4 separate regions of the Homo sapiens genome follow, and regions 1, 3 and 4 are each reported to be linked to region 2. Evidence: microRNA targets listed by miRTarBase, many of them from high-throughput screens and not tested one by one. Region 2 holds a microRNA gene; each other region holds the end of a gene's coding sequence. Distances are from middle to middle.

Region 1 (4,000 bases), not on the chromosome of region 2:
CTTCTGACAGCTTCATCTGTTACTATTCTAAAACAACTTGGCTTTGTAGATGGAATTTCATTAATTTCCTCAAAGAGATGAACCTACTAATTTTAGTTCAGTGAAATATGTTCTTCCCAAATTGACAGCTTTTAAGTTTAAAAATGCATCGGAATCCTATGTACAACGTATCATAAGTGGACTGTCAGATTACTATCCAACAAAATATCCTGGGGATTTAAGATTTTGTTTTCAGGAAAAAAAACTTTTAAGCAACACAGAAACATACTGTATAATAGTTTTATTTTTCTCATTTTACTATTTTTACATTTTATGCACAAATATTTATCTGCGTAAAAATAGAAAATAACTGTTTTATGTAAAATTACAAAAAAAATTAAAACCACAAAGAAATACATAATTGTTATTATGACAGTATAAGTGTCGTTGTCGTTATTTAAAGAGTAAAAATGTATGCAAAAGTCCTCCTCCCATTTACAAAAGATTGAGAATTTTGTTTTTCCTGGCAGCAAGTGAAATATTGAAGTATCAATATTTTTACACCCTTTAGATCTGAAGACATTAAGTTAGTCACAGATTTGTTTTGCAATTATGAATTTTAAAACATTTTTGTGCTATTTCAAGGATACACTAGTTCTTTCTTAAAGGCAGTAGCATAAAATGAATATGGAAAACAGCAGACCTCACAAAAATATTTGGTGGTACAATTCTTTTTGTATCATACTTGAATATCACCATTAATCAGGGGAGAAAACAACTAAACAATTTTTCCTAATAACATAGACTGATACAAAAATAACTGTGATCAGTCAATTTATCTGAAGATCAACCACACATAGCAATTCTGCCTCATTTGTTTTTCTGATGCCAACACAAATATTTAGACTTTAGGCTAGCAAGATATGTATGAAAGTTGGCTCAATAAAAACTTCACATGGAAAACAAATTTTAAAACAAAAATGAACATTTCTTTTACTTAAATTCTTGTACTTCTAAGGTACAAATGATGACCAATAATTTTATCTTTCTTCCTTTGAATATACTGTAAATTCTATGAAAAATTCATTTATAAAAACAAAGCAAAGAATAGCATAAATTTTATTTTCTTTCACAATGTTATATTTTAATAGAAGAAAAAAACTACCTTTCTGATAACTGTAACCTAAGTAAAACAAATATTTTACATATAATTTGAGGCAAAGTAATGAGTTTCTTGAATCAACTGGAGAAATTAGTCACATTACCTATGTCATGCATAAATGATGGTAAGAAGAAAAAAAAAGCATCTGATCATGTATGAGAACTGTCTCTGTTCAAATTATGAGAAATAAAATGAAAATTGCTAAAGGGAGAAAATGAATAAAATATGATTTAAAAAAAAACCATATGGGAATTGCATAGATGAGAAAAAAATTTTCATTCTAGGGATCTAAAAGTAATGTTTTTAGCTTTAAAAACATACACACACATATATAATTGAGACATGTCTATCATCTTGGCTAAAATTTTAATATATGTCTCCCCAAAAGCATTTTAAATATGAAAGCCAAGATTCTTAAGCTCTTGATGATATACCAGAAGGGTATACTTTATTATTTTTTTAAAACTACAAGCAACTTGTCAACTCTCTAGGCCGTAAGAGGATGGTGCAAAACCTTTCTTGCTGTCTATTTGTTACCTGACGTTAGAGCTTCTGTTTATTATTTCATATTGTTATTTTACTCAGATATTCTTAAAACCACAGTGCCCAAATTGTACTAATAATCTGTCCATATATTCTCTTTCAAAAAAGTAAAAATGGAAATACAAATCTTACTCTGCTCAGATATCAACTGCAGGAAGAGCTTAATAATATGAATGAATTGAGAACATGTTTTAGTAAAATTATGCATTAAGATTACCAGAGAAAGAGATCAAAGATCCCTCCCTCTCTCTCTTCTCTTCCTTGTCCTTAAGATCCCTGCCTCTTAGGATTCATTCCAAACCACTACCAGAATTGCTAACAATGCCATCTTGCCTGTATTATCATGCCTTTTTCTCCTAGTTAAGTCAAAAGCATTAACTGAGCTCTTAAGAAGCTTTTTAAGAGGACAGATTTAAAGAAAACAATGAAGGAGAAGGTGCATAAATATTTGAGAATCAACTTTCTCAAATCTGTAAGAGGATTAATAGCTATCTGCCAGTCTCATGTAATAATTCGTGCTTAATACCTTAAACAACAAAGAGAGAAAAGAAAGAAAAAGACATTTCTAGCCATTTTTGTTTAGTGTTCGCTTATGTAAGGAATGTCATATATGCAGGAATTAGTTAATTTGAATCTTAAAATGAGTTGTTTAATAATTTTTCTTCTGTATATCTTTATGCCTTCATATGTTTATAAAATGATCAACTGAATATGTATACAGCTATATGAATACACATATATAATATGGAAAAGGAAAACAAGTGGAAAAGTATTGTCTTAAAGAGAAGACTGCCTATAACAAAGGTCGTATTTTCCTTTTAAAACTATTTGCAAGTAATTTACTAATGCCTTGAAAGGTAAAGTACTACTGACTGATTTAAAGTCTTCATTTTATCAGAAACAAAGGAATATAAGCTGCTTTGCATAATAAACTGGCACTACAGGGTAATTTTTTAAAAAAGGAAGCCATAACAAACCAAAACAAACCTTTATTTTTGGGTTGAGGTATACCTTTTCAGTTTTTTAAATCTCTGACAGGAAAAACAGAGATCATTTTATAATTTTTATAACAGCTGGTTTATTAGAATTAAATGCCTCTCTCAAAATAATTTAAATTCTTGGTCTGACATGAGTAATCTATACAGAAAATCCTTAAAATTGGCTTGAGTTAATAAGCCAGATTTAAACCTGGATCTCCTCCTTCAGCACTGCTCTTTTGCCAGTCAACTTCTTACTGTCCTTTGCTTGCAAATATATAAATAACCTGATACTCTTAGTTTAGTAATTTATTAATATAAATTTATTCGGTATGAACATTTTAGCTCTGCTTGATTAGATGAAACAGGCACACATGCTTTAGCTGAGAAATTCCATTTTCTGGTTCTATGTAAAGCAACATCTAAAGCAGCAGAGAGGGGAAACAGTTATATTTTCAAAAATAGTTAAGCCAGACTGTTTCCTAGAGATACTTCATTTATTTTTCATTTTCAGATACTACTGGCTATTTTTGGTAGGGCTACACATTAATACTGACCAGTTTAGCCTTCCTGACTGTTAAACTATTCCACAATGAACCTGCCTTCACACTGCAGACATTGTGGAGATCCTTTAACATACACATATTCTAAAATATATGCTCAAAGTAAAAAGATCCAAATTCACAAGAGTATGAAATATTTATAAAAAAATCATGCATCAGACTGTACAGCCTAGAAATAAAAGAAGATTCAAATTCAGTAATAAAGGTAAGAGCTATACTTGCTCTAAACATTTTAAGAAAGACTTTGGAGTCTCAGAATGTCCTGGGGCTCAATTATCCTTTTCCGTTTGCAGAGAAGCAGTAGCCAGAGCTACTGCTGTGACTGGCTGGGCAATTCCATGGAGCTGCATCTTTGCAAGTTTCTTCTGTTCACATTCTGTGACCAAACGGTTCAACTCCGCTGCACTGTATCCAATAAGAGTCTTCAAGTCACAGACAAACTTGTACACAAATCTCTTGCCTTGAACTTTACAAATCATGTCCCCATCGTAATAATATCTTCAAAAAGAGAAAAAAAAATTAGAGACTTCAGAAAAAATGAGACTTCTTACAATAATTTACAGACTATTCCATAAGCAGAAGCCTAGTAGAGTACTGCATCCGCCACAATAGCAATTAATATTGAAGCTATGTAGAATATTTAATGCTACTATCAAATGAAACATCCCAACATTATTTACTAAAATTTCAATGCTCACTACTCCAAAACTCTATACATTAAACTTTCAAAACATATTTTCAACAATTAGAATAAAACATTGATTTAAAAATAATTA
Region 2 (4,280 bases):
CCCTCTCTCCCTCCCACCGCCCACCCCCCCAACCCAAGAAAAAAAACTGCCTGTGCAACAGCAATGGCAGATTCCAATCCTCCAGGCTTTCCTAAACCACCACGGTGACCAGCCAGGGGGGAGGGGAAGGGAGGAACGGGCTTTCCTGCTTCCTTAAGACAGGGGCAATGAGCTTGACCTCCTGGCCCCTAGCCCTTTGAGGAGTGATTCCCCCCGGTCTGGAAGCCAGGTGTCCTGGACCCTAGCCCCCGAGCGGTGGGGGGGGCCTGGAGAGACGGGGAGGAGGAAGGAGGGAGTGACTTCCAAAATTGGCATCGGGACAGAGCAGGGCTGGCGGGAGGCAGGCAAAAGACGGAATTTTCCTGAAAAAACGGGGGTATCTGAGGACCCCAAATTTGGGGAGCTAGTCCAGGACCGTCCTCCCAACATCCTAGATTTTTTTGGGATTTTTTGGGGACCCCGGGACCCCTCTAGATGGGGTGAGGAATGTAGTGTTGGGTGAATCTGACTGGGGCATTGCAGCTGCCTCTCCCGCCGAGTTGGAGACGGATGGGCTGGGACGGGTTTTGGGGGGGTGTCCCCAATTCTGACTGGGAGTGGAGGAACCCCTCCTGAGATCTCTTGTGGGGGTGCCCCCTCCCCAGGGCACTCCCCAGTCCCTGAGCCAGCCGAGAGGAAGGAGGCCAGCGATGCGACTGGGGCGGCTCCTTTCTCCTGCACCCCAAATGTGAGGGATGCACCCTAAATTTTGCTCTTTTCAAAATAGGGGACCAGGATCTCAGGGGAGAGTAGCTGAGGTAAGTGGGGAGGGAAGTGTCCTCTGTTTTCAGGAGAGACGTGGCGGTTGGGGGGGAGGTTTGGAGGTGCGTGCTGGGGTGGGGTTGGCTTTGTCAGTCTTGGAATTGGGGGGATGATTGGAGAGGCTTTCTCTTATACCCCTAAACTGCAGCCCCCCAGACGGAAACCAAAGGCTGAGACCAGAGAGCCCCCCAACATCCCCAGCCGTTAGGATAGTGTTTAATTTCTCTTTCACCCCCCACAAAGGCTCTGCCGAGGTAGGAGCTGGGGGCAACTGTTAGTTTGGGGGCTATGGAGGGTGGTGGAGGAGCAGGAGGCCTTGGCAAGATTTGATGGAGGGCAGATAGGGGTGTCCGGGAGGGGTCTGGCATCTTCGGGGGCCTAAAAAGACTGCTTACATACACCACCTTGGATCTTTCAGATTGCTAAGAGTTTTGGGGGGTGTGTCGGAAGAGGGGGTGGTAAAAGATGCGATGGGATATAGGAAGATAACTTCTGGATTTTAGGGGGTCATATTTTGATTTGCAAAAGGAGTTTTGGCCCTTGGATTTTGCTTTCTGAGGGGTGTTTTTAAAAAATCAAGTCCTGGACAGGAGAAAAGGGCTGAGGGAAGGCCTGGAGTTGGGGGTGGGGAGAGGCATGTTTGTCTCAGCTTAAACGTGGCTCTCTGGGGTGGGCCCGCCTGCCCTGGCCTGGTGGATGGGCTGATGGAGGTTGCTGTGGGGGCCGGCTCGGGTCCTCAGGGGCCCTGGGGAGTGGGAACAGCACTGGGGGTTGAATACCTGGCCCCCCAGGTCCAGATGGCCCTCTTCCTGGGCTCTGCTGCTCCCCTTCCCCCTGGTCTCCATTTCCTGCCTTTGGCCTCCATCTTGTGGCAGGCCCAGGGCCCAGGGCGACTTCCGGCCCCCCTCTCCCAACCATGTTCCGGCCCCACCACCTCTGGACTGCCAACTCCCAACCCTGCTGGCCTTGGCCCTCTGTCTCTCCTTGCTTTTCTCTTGGGTTCTGACCCAGGGAGAGGAAGGACGGACACAGGAAGCCTTGGGTCCCTGCCCTTGCTGAGACAGGAGGCAGTGTGTTGGCCCCTCCAGTCATTCCCTATTTCTTCTGCCTCTGACCCCACCCTAGGGATCCCCTGAGCTGAGTTCCTACAGAGGGAAGATGGTCCAATCTTACTACACTGTGAGCTCATCCCCATGGTCCGTCGCCTTCCAGTTGCCTGCTCAGCCCGTCCCTGGTTCCTCCCAAACGTTTTTGGGGGCCATGTTTGCCTTTTAAGGCTTCTCTATCCCCCCGCTCCTGGAGGTGGTGCTGGGGTCTTCCCAGCACTGCTATGTGCTCTCTTCCTTTCAACCCACCCCGGTCCTGCTCCCGCCCCAGCAGCACACTGTGGTTTGTACGGCACTGTGGCCACGTCCAAACCACACTGTGGTGTTAGAGCGAGGGTGGGGGAGGCACCGCCGAGGCTTGGCCCTGGGAGGCCATCCTGGAGAAGTGACACAAAAAACATCTGGGGCCTTGTGACAAACTTCTTGCCAGGTGGGCAAGGAGAGGGTGGGGTATGTAAGCACCCCTCTAAAATCTCCAGGGCAGTTTCAAGAATACTGATGGCCAGAGACCCTGGGAGTAAGTTCTGCCTCAAGAGAACAAAGTGGAGTCTTTGTTGCCCACACCCAGCTTCCCTGGCTCTAGCAGCACAGAAATATTGGCACAGGGAAGCGAGTCTGCCAATATTGGCTGTGCTGCTCCAGGCAGGGTGGTGAAAACTACCGAGGAGGGGCTGAGCCCCCATGGGCCGAGGAGAGAAGAGGGAACAGGCCTCTCCTGCTAATAATGTTAAGCAGACAGCACGAAGCTGAGAGGGAAATCTTTATTGTTTTCTGTATAAAAATGTCCATCAGATGAAGGTCAAAGGGGTTGGGGGCAGATGCTTATGCGGGAATAGCGAGGTGGCAGCCCCAGCAGCCTTTCAGCCCTCTCTCGTGCAGGCCTTGCTCGGAGTCCCAGGAGATCCACAGGTCCGGCATGAACAGTGAGAGGTCAGAGGTGGAAGGCTCAGCAGGAGAGGAGAGGAGGATCAGCAGAGGTCATGAGAAGGCCAGAATCCAGGGTCAGGCTGTCTGGAACAGGAAGTAAAATGGGCCGAGATGGAGCGAGCCCCCAGTGTGCTTCCAAGGCCACTCCCACCTCCCTGAAACACCCTGCTACGTACTGATCCAATGCCCTGCGCTGTGTATGAGAGCACCTTCTCTTCTGAAACCCCTATACAAGGGAGGGGCCCCTGCGGAGACCGTGCCCTGCCATCCAGGTGAGCCCTTTCTCCCCAACCCCGTCAGCTGTGTGGGAGGAGGAGGACTCCTACCCTGGTCGAAGTTGAGTTTCTTAGCTGGAGGAGTTTCTCCTAGCCCTTCAATATCCACCACGTCACTGTTGGCATCGGAGTCGTTCAGAGCACTGAGTGTCACATCTGGGAAGGGGGCATAAGCTAGGTTCTAGGTTCCCCTGACAGCCTCTCCCCCAGCCCCAAGCTTCCCAAAGCTTTGTGCCTCCTCTCCCCTCCCCTCTGCCCCTCTCTGGGAACCTCCACAGGGACAGGAAGAGAGACTGACCCTTCTTTGACCCAGGCCCAATTCTCTCACTAAACCTCAGATGGGACCTTTAACCCCTAGGCAGCAACTCCACAGCCCTCACCAGCCTTCTGTTTCTTTATGGGGGGACCCCCGGCCTCAGGGACACTGGAGCTGCTGGGAGGAGGGGCAGCTGGAGGAGGTGACAAGACACCAGATGCCACCTTCTTGGGCCCTTTCTTGGGTGACTCAGCTGGAAGGGGGATGCCAGAATCTTCATATACCTTGCGTTTCACAGTGGCCTTTATCTGGGCCCTGAAGAAAAGAGAGAAGAGGTTAGGAAAGGAGTCATCAGAGAGACTAACAGAAGAGGGGACGGGAGGGGAAGGGGTTCTGGGAGTCCCTTCATAAGAATCCAGGTCGGGGCCCCAACCCATTGGTAGGGTTCTCACTTTCTCGAAGTTTTACACTCACTCAGGATGGATGGAGTGTGGAGAGTGGAGTCCCTGAACTGAGTAGTGGGAAAGGCCCATCTCCTAATTCTCTTCTGGGAGAGACATCAGGTAGAGCTTGGTGATTTACAGGTGGATTGAGATTTACTGATCAACTAGTTCAGGGTCACCATATCCCTGGAAACACTGCAGTGGGGTCCTCAAACATTTATATAAATAACCAGGGGACTTCCATCATCAAATACAATAACAGCATCTCAGGCAACCTAAATTCACATTCTTGGAAGGATTACCACAGCATTTTAGGAACTTCTGACCAACTGTGACAATTCTATTCTTTCAGTCCTCAAGGGGATTCTAAAAAACTAGTGACAAAGTAGGGAAGCAGCTGAGCTGGAAAGGAGTTCTGAGGACGATGGAACCTTGGGTAAGGAGGAAGAAGGCTGCCCACCCGCCCTTTTCT
Region 3 (4,000 bases), 32 Mb from region 2:
AGGAAGCATTATGTTCAGATGTCAGGCTCCTTTCCACCTGACCAAAACTTACCATGCTTTGTGTTCTCTCAAAGTCCTAGCATATTCATCAGCTGGTGTAGGCTGCAAATCAGCATAAAAAAATGTATTTCCTTCCAAGCTTGATAGGCCTGAAGTTTTCTTGAGAAAGGAACAAGGCTTCTGCCTGACAACATACAAGCCAGTGCTGCACATCTCTGAGTCTTCATTCTCTCTCACTTGACTCTGTTCTTGGCACAAACAGGCTGGAATTTGCCTTAATAGCAGAGATCACCAGAGCAAGTCCCCATGGACCTGCCTGTGGGTATATCCTTTGAGCAGAGAAACAGCATTTCCAAGATCATCATGAACTGATGAATAGAGTCTTTTAAACTTATCTTTTAAGTAAAGAAGTACCTTAATAGCCTCAACTTAGGCAACTCAAATCCACACTCACTAATCAATCTGGGTTTTATGGTCAATTTGTACAGGCACTAAAACAACAACAAAACACCTTAAACTTTAAAGCAGATGGCCCCTAAATAGTTCTCTCCTTTAGTTTTGTTTGAGTAACCTAGGGATCTGAATATTATTAACCACATCTGGAAGTATGTGTGTATGCACGTATGTATTTTTATGTGTAGGGGTACAGACAAGAAACTGAGTTTCATGTTAAAAACTATATTCCTTATAAGGTAATCTGAAAGAGAATAAGGGGAAAGGGGAATGAATAAACAAGTAATCTGCGTTTTTAAAGCGGCACAATAAAACAGGATTTAAAATAAATTTAATATGATAAATATTAATGGATAGTATAGACTTCTAAGACCCTTTCATCCAATTGCCTTCTAAATCAATGGATAAATAAATCAGACTTTATTCTTATATATGCTGGTATAATCAGCAACTGCAGCATTAAAACAAACCTCTTAAGCTGGGTACAGTGGCACACACCTGTAGTCCCAGCTACTTGGGAGGCTGAGGTGGGAGGAAGGCTTGAGCCCAGGAGTTTGAGTCCAGGCTGGGCAAGATAGCGAGACCCCATCTCTAAAAAAATAAAATAAAATAAAATAAATAAATAAAACAAGCCTTTTAATAGTCTGGATCATATAGAAGATTAATATTATGATGGATTGCACATTAATGTCTCAAAGGACACCCCCCGCCAAAATCACCCTACTAAAAATCACACTGGGTTTCTAATCTTGGGGTTTAGAAATTTTCTTCTTATGCTTTAAAAACTCATTTTACTTCCTTTATCCTCTGATTTTTTGGGAAGACAGAGGGTGCTTCTTCTTGGACTCTTGAGTCCTGGACACTAAATTCCTCCCTCAGTTCTAGTGCCCAGGCTAAGCAGAGACACTAAACCCCTTACTTCCTCTCAGTGTTCTCTTTCAGCTGCCTCAATGCTTCACCTGGCTACATTCATACTTCATTCAGAAGTCTGAACAGGGCCGGGCATGGTGGCTCATGCCTGTAGTCCCAGCACTTTGGGAGGCTGAGGCAGGTGGATCATTTGAGGTCAGGAGTTCAAGACCAGGCTGGCCAACATGTGAAACCCCATCTCTACTAAAAATACAAAAATTAGCCAGGCAGTAGTGGTGCATGCCTGTAATCCCAGCTACTCGGTAGGCTGAGGCAAGAGAATCGCTTGAGCCTGGGAAGTGGAGGTTGCGGTGAGCCGAGATCGCACCACTGCACTCCAGTCTGGGCAAGAGTGAGAACCCGTCTTAAAAAAAAAAAAAAAAAAAAAAAAAGACTGGGGCAGAAAAGAGAGATGACTGACAGGTTATGGGAAGGTTCTGGCCCTTTGGGGTGCCAACACTAGATATGAATCCATTAACACTGACATACAATTGACCAGCTGTTATAGAGCCATTCTTGTATCCCTGAAAGGCTGAAATGGGGGAAAAGAGAGAAACAGACTGGCTAGAATACACAGCTCCTCTAGTGGCATTCCTGTTAAAACAACCTCATAGGTCAGAGATGCCACTGATCACTCCTAGATTTCAGTAAATATATAATAACATTAATCATTAATGTCTGAACTTGGGTGTTGGGGACTTTCAGGCTCTGTTTTGTGATTTATCATTTTCACTCTTTCCTAATAATACATCTCTCTCTTTCCTTATGATACAGTTGGTGGAGTCTGACAGAAGGAAGAATATGTAGGGGGAATATTGGGGATACCATGCGAATTATCACATATCAGAAGATAAAATAGAAACCAAAAGGTAGCATCTGTTTTCATCAAAACAGTTTCTTCTCATAACTTTTCTTGCTTTCATTAGAGTTTCCTTGCAGGTTGGCAAAGATTCAGGCAGGGTCCCCTAATGGTAAAATTTAGAATTAAAAAAATATTTATTGATAATATCTTTTTAAAAAATGTTTGGTAATCCCAACTAATCATTCAAAATGCAAACTGTAAACACGACAACAGCAAAAGGGTAACAATTGAGTGAGTAAGCAGACTGAACAGGTGACAGACTGAGCAAGAGTGTGGGGGGGAGCAACAGAGAATGTAAGACAGGTGCACAAGTGTGCTACAGACAGTGATAATTTGAGTGTGTAAGAATTACATTTGGACCACAGTGATTTCAAGGCAACCATTTAGGAAACCTCTGGGCCAAATACTAAAACACAGGAGGAATGGACGAGCCTTCTTTGTGAGCATGCTCAGCATGTTGGCATGGAAACAAGGAAGCATAGAAGCTCTTTAGTCACAATGAATGTCTACCATTTCTAAGATGCAAAGAAATTTTCTTTCTGGTCCCTGGGTACATCATATATTGTCTTTCCATGCTTTTCTTGACCCCGGAGGACAGCAGATGCTGTTCTAAAATCCCCAAAGAAACCCCTAGACAAAAATTTAAAAACCACAGTAGCATTAACACGGGGTTTGCTGGAATGCCCCTCCCTATCTTGGCCTATGATTTTCTTATGGGCACCTCAACAGGAATGGTTAAATTTTACCAATCTACTTGATAAAAAAGCCATCACAAACTTCAGTCCCATGGTCACAAAGCTAGAGTGGATGGGGGTAAGGGTGTGTATGTGTATGTATGTGTGGCTCTGGGGATCTGGACACTGCCCTCCCTCACTTTGTAACCCTTGCTCAGAACACTGGGGTTGCTTCCACTGGAGAGACTCCACGGTAGCTCTAGAAGTGTCATTAAATACTCAGTTCGCCAAGGTTGACCACCTCCATTGTCATAGGATGATGCAGCATCTGCAGAAGCGCTGTCTGCTGCCCCCTACTGATGGGGGTGGAGTGACAGGTGCGAAGTAGGCGTGGACTTTAATATTGGGTAAATGGGTCTGAAACAAGACAGAAACATTAAACGTTTAAGAGAGGGCTTAAACAGAAAGAGCAATGTTGGTTCTTAGAAAAACTACCGAGGGGCTCAATGAACATAAAAGCAGGGCAAAGGCTGAGCACTGGTCAGGATGTTAGAGGGCCTGGGTTCTACTTTGTTCCATCCTAGGTTGTTCTCAATGACCAGAACAACTCATATGACTTTGGTACCTGTTTGTGTAATAATAAAACTGAGGGCCGGGCGCGGTGGCTCACGCCTGTAATCCCTGCACTTTGGGAAGCCGAGACGGGCGGATCACGAGGTCAGGAGATTGAGACCATCCAGGCTAACATGGTGAAACCCCGTTTCTACTAAAAATACAAAGGCTAATTTTTGTATTGTTAGTAGAGACGGGGTTTCACCATGTTGGCCAGACTGGTCTCGAACTCCTGACCTCAAGTGGTCCGCCCAAGGATGGGAGATGGAAGAGACTCCTGGCAGCCAGGCAGTCTAGGAACCCTAATGTAAGTAGGCACGTAAGAGGCTCTGGTTGACCTGTGGCTCTCATTCTCTTTGGTGAAGAAAAAAAATGGCTGCAAGGCCACCCCCAGTGCAATTATGCTCACAGTCCTCTATGTCTGAAGAGGGGAAGAGGAACTGAGGCCAACTCGAACTCAAGATGAAGTTTGGTACTCTTTTATTTGCTC
Region 4 (4,000 bases), not on the chromosome of region 2:
GCCAACAATGGCCACAGTTGTGCCACAAGTGCCCACCTCTCCCAAATCCAGCCTTAGTGTCCAGCCTGGATTCCTGGCTGACCTCAACAGGACACTGCAACGAAAGTCCATCACTCGGCACGGCTCACTCTCCTCCCGCATGTCCAGAGCAGAACCAACAGCCACCATGGATGATATGGCATTGCCTCCACCACCCCCTGAACTGCTGTCTGATCAACAGAAGGCTGGTTACGGAGGCAGTCATATATCAGGCTATGCAACGTTGCGGAGAGGACCCCCTCCTGCTCCCCCCAAAAGAGACCAGAACACCAAGCTCTCCAGAGACTGGTAGCCACCATAGGACTTTATTTTCATGATATCTGTAATCACTGCTACAATCAGCTCACCTGATCATCTGTGAATTCAGGTGTTCAGAGCCTCCTGGTATGATGTTATTCAGGTAGTGTCCAGCTATATGTGTATGTGTGTGTGTACACGTGCATGTACACACAGCTGTACAGTGTGTGTATATATGTATACATATATGTATGTGTATGTGTATATAGAGAGAGAGCTGAGAGTTATTCTATTTATTCCTTTTCTCTCCTAATCTGAAAATGGGTGTTCTGTATTTTGGGTGGAAGAGGCATAGAAGGGGATGTGTGTTGTCTCTTAAGATTTCTATATCATGTGGATTGGACCAAAAACTTCTAATCACTTATTTAGAAGGTATTTATAAGTGTCTGTCCATGTGTAGCCTATTCGTGCATGTTGTGTATTATATAACTAAGGAATAGATGTAGAATGTGCTATTTCTGGTTGAGAAAAATCACCAGAATGTTTGGTGTATCTATAAGGCTTTTGTGTTTGTTTTTCCCCAGTTGGCTGAAGTTAGAATTGCTTGACTGACACTTCATTGCTATACATGAAGGGGCACTTTAAATCAGGAAAATCTCTCAGCTTCATAGAACGGGTAACTAGTGCAGGATGGGGAAATGTTCACAGACATCATCTGTATGTGGTTGTGCATAGAAAGTAAATACATGGCGTAATTAACTCAGCTGTTCTAGCTGCAGTACTGCTGCAGTGATCCACCCACATTTAGGATGTGCTGACAGATAAGCTCTTTGCCTACAATACATGGATAATTAGTGCTATAATTCTGGATAGTTCCTTTTTAGTACTGTTTTATGAAGCTTTATCAACTTGGCTTCATGATCCTCACTTTGATTGATTTTAAGAGGATGGATAACACAGTTATCTCTGTAATGTTCTGTCCCAGTATGTCTTTGGGTCACCAGTTACCTTCTTAAAATATGTGCTTTAGGTAGGTGTTATTACATATCTGTAGACAATTGGTATATGAAATATACACATCCTGTGCCCCAATATGGTGCATTATGAAAAACAAAATCATTTTCTAAAATGCATTTTTTGAGCATTGCTCTATAGAAGGGAAGGGTGATGAGAGAACAGAACTGGCCCCTGTACAGGTGTCATTAATCTGGTTGTATATGGGTTATAATATGTAATACAAAAAGCTCATTAAGTATGGGACTACATGGAGAGGGAAGACAGTTTCATTTATAGCTACTGGGGCTACCAGGACCCTTGCTGACTGCAGCCTGGTTGTGATTAGTTCAGGTTACTAGGTGTTCTGATGGAGTGGGACAGTCCAAGTCCAGTAACTGACATTACGTTTTATGCGTGTGCAGTTTGGTATAACGTGGAGTCAGTGCTCTAACGACACACTATACTTCTATATGCTTTTTTCTGTGAATTTTCCTTGGTACATGAGAGAAATAAGTACTCTCATCAACTTATGATAAATTGGACTATTAGGAATAAAACAATCTCAGAGCAGCTCCTAAACAAGAGAATAAAAATGGGCCATCCCAGCACTTATAAGGGGAGCACATCTTGTAATGAAAGTCTGTGCCTATTGTTAATGATTACCAATGCAAACTGCAGAAATCAGTTGACATTGTCCCACAAGGAAAAAGTGATGCCAGTAAAGTGGGGGAAGAGATGGTAAATAATTCTAGAATGAGCAAAAGTGCTTAATTAGTACAGTATACTCAAGGTCTTGCATAACCCACACTCCACGAAAACCGCATCGTAAACAGAGAGTGAACAGCACCTCTCCATTGCTACATCTCCAGAATATTGTTCGGTTATGTTCATGTGGTTATGGAGCAATAAGAATATATACCATTAATTTTTAGGTCTTTCAAATTGTTCACCAAGTTTTGTGTTTGATATTTATGAAGTGATCTTTAACACATCTGCATTGTTAATTTAAGCATGCACAGAAATTTGGGTAATGTTTGAGTAGATTGCCAAGCGCTACTGTGATTCATGAATGAATTTCTCATAGTCTTCTGCCTGCAGTTTTATAGTTTGAGGGGCACCCATATTTGTGGGTTAGAGTTAGTAAGAATATGAATCCAGTTATCAAAGTATTCATCCCTGAGGTTTTGAGTTTTATTGTGGTGGTGATTTTCTCATGAGAAGGTAGACAACACTTCAGTTTTTCTTGAGGGGGAAAAAATGTACCCGCTAACCTTTTTTCACCCATGATTTGAGCCCTAAAACAACAGCCTTTATGTTTTCAGTGCAGGATTTCTTGGAATTTCTTGCTTGTATCAATCCTGATGATAGCCATCCTGAACAGATGCTTCTGGTCTGTTTTCCTGGAATAGCAGACATCCTTTTGAACACTAATGATGCCAGGAAGAGAGTAAGGCTAGAGGAGGAGACTCATTTTAACCCCAGTCCAGTGGCTTGTCCGACAACAGGCCATTTCCCTTTACATTCCTCCACAGACAGAAATGGCTATTAAAAATGTTTTAACCTCATGTATGAACTGAATTTAAAAAACCACTAAAGTGATACTTTATACTTCTGTTTTACTCCCTAGTGGGTTTTCTTTAATTTGGATTTTTGTTGGGATGTAGCTTTTCCTAGACTGTATTTCTGTAGCTCTTTTTCTCTGGTGTATTCATGGAAAGCATCTACTGCCGCACGACACTAGTACTGTGCCTTCTTTCACTGCCCTCTGCTCTGCAGCTCTCACCCAGCTTGGCTGCTTCAAGTCTGTGCAGTTGACTTGGCTGTACTGAAAAGTGAACAGCATGGATTAACTCATCCTGCTGCTGAGGGCAGTGCAAACAGGTGCTTATTAGAGGTAGTGACTTGCTTAATTAGTGACACTCCTAATTTCTACTATGGATAATTTCAAAGTAGAATCACTCTATGCTTAGAGTTTTGGCACCAATGCTGTAGGGCAGCAGAATCTATTCTCAGTAAAATAACTTATGGTTTATTAGATATTCTGTATTGGATTTTACCAGCTTGACTTTTACTGCTCAGATGCTTTCTTTCCCCCCCTTAGACGCTGTAATTCTCTTGGGAAGAGTAACTATTCTTAAGGTTTTTACAGATACCCACCTTAGTTGTAAATTGGATAGTTTATATTTCTGGGACTTTTTAAATGAAAATGTGGAATGTTAAGTTACAAAAGACTTTTCATCAGAAAATTTCAAACAAAGTAAACATGGCGTTTTATAGTCCTCTAAAATCTAGGTGCTCCCACCCACCAAAGGCATATCCTGCAAAGGGCTGTGAACTATCTTGGTGAACTGTCTTGGGTCCCCTTTCCATGTATGTTTTCTTGTCACTGAAAACAAACAACGCTGAGTTTATCAAGAAAATTTAAATTGGGGGATCATAATAATTCCAACCAAGTGACAACTCTGACATCAAGGTTATTAGGAGCTGTACATCCAATTCAAGTTTTATTTGCTGCTATTCTGGGAGAATAAACTTGTATATGGAGAATAAACTAATAAACTTGTATCGAGGAAATCCATAAAGTTATAAATTAGCCTGAAAAATATTTCAGGTAATGGTGTGGATTGGCCTGCTTTGACTCTCAGCCACCAACAGAAATCTTTGTCACCTTTGTTCCTCAGCTAAAAGTAATTTTGTTATAAACACAAAGTGACTTTAAACAGGTAAA

What was found. Region 2 holds the annotated microRNA hsa-miR-497-5p (CAGCAGCACACUGUGGUUUGU, at 2,176-2,196, shown strand). A microRNA usually pairs through its seed, bases 2 to 8, with sites in the 3' UTR of a target mRNA and lowers its output. Matches are read on the target gene's strand: a 7mer-m8 pairs with bases 2 to 8, a 7mer-A1 pairs with bases 2 to 7 and ends in A, and an 8mer does both.
Region 1: miRTarBase lists GABPA as a target of hsa-miR-497-5p. Seed matches in the 3' UTR shown: 7mer-m8 at 3,088-3,094.
Region 3: miRTarBase lists FBXL20 as a target of hsa-miR-497-5p. The part of its 3' UTR that is shown has no 7-base or 8-base seed match.
Region 4: miRTarBase lists RAPH1 as a target of hsa-miR-497-5p. Seed matches in the 3' UTR shown: 7mer-m8 at 3,130-3,136 and 8mer at 3,782-3,789.

What each region holds. Positions count from the first base shown.
Region 1 is chr21:25,768,726-25,772,725 of GRCh38, reverse strand. It overlaps GABPA (GA binding protein transcription factor subunit alpha), which reads right to left. Exons shown (of 10, transcript NM_002040.4): 10 at 266-3,722. The coding sequence ends at 3,494. Among named protein-coding and RNA genes, the nearest start is that of GABPA, 36 kb to the right of the region's middle.
Region 2 is chr17:7,015,895-7,020,174 of GRCh38, reverse strand. MIR497 (microRNA 497) reads left to right here and starts at 2,153; the gene lies at 2,153-2,264. BACC1 (BPTF associated chromatin complex component 1) reads right to left here. Exons shown (of 6, transcript NM_174893.4): 4 at 3,490-3,680; 5 at 3,161-3,265; 6 at 2,655-2,914. The coding sequence ends at 2,910. RNASEK-C17orf49 (RNASEK-C17orf49 readthrough) reads right to left here. Exons shown (of 8, transcript NR_037717.1): 6 at 3,490-3,680; 7 at 3,161-3,265; 8 at 2,651-2,914. MIR497HG (mir-497-195 cluster host gene) reads left to right here and starts at 521. Exons shown (of 3, transcript NR_038310.1): 1 at 521-797; 2 at 2,787-3,106; 3 at 4,161-4,280. It also overlaps MIR195. RefSeq lists enhancers at 1,447-1,616, 2,968-4,167.
Region 3 is chr17:39,258,253-39,262,252 of GRCh38, forward strand. It overlaps FBXL20 (F-box and leucine rich repeat protein 20), which reads right to left. Exons shown (of 15, transcript NM_032875.3): 15 at 1-3,315. The coding sequence ends at 3,208. Among named protein-coding and RNA genes, the nearest start is that of STAC2, 34 kb to the left of the region's middle.
Region 4 is chr2:203,435,768-203,439,767 of GRCh38, reverse strand. RAPH1 (Ras association (RalGDS/AF-6) and pleckstrin homology domains 1) reads left to right here. Exons shown (of 14, transcript NM_213589.3): 14 at 1-4,000. The coding sequence ends at 331. Among named protein-coding and RNA genes, the nearest start is that of RAPH1, 98 kb to the left of the region's middle.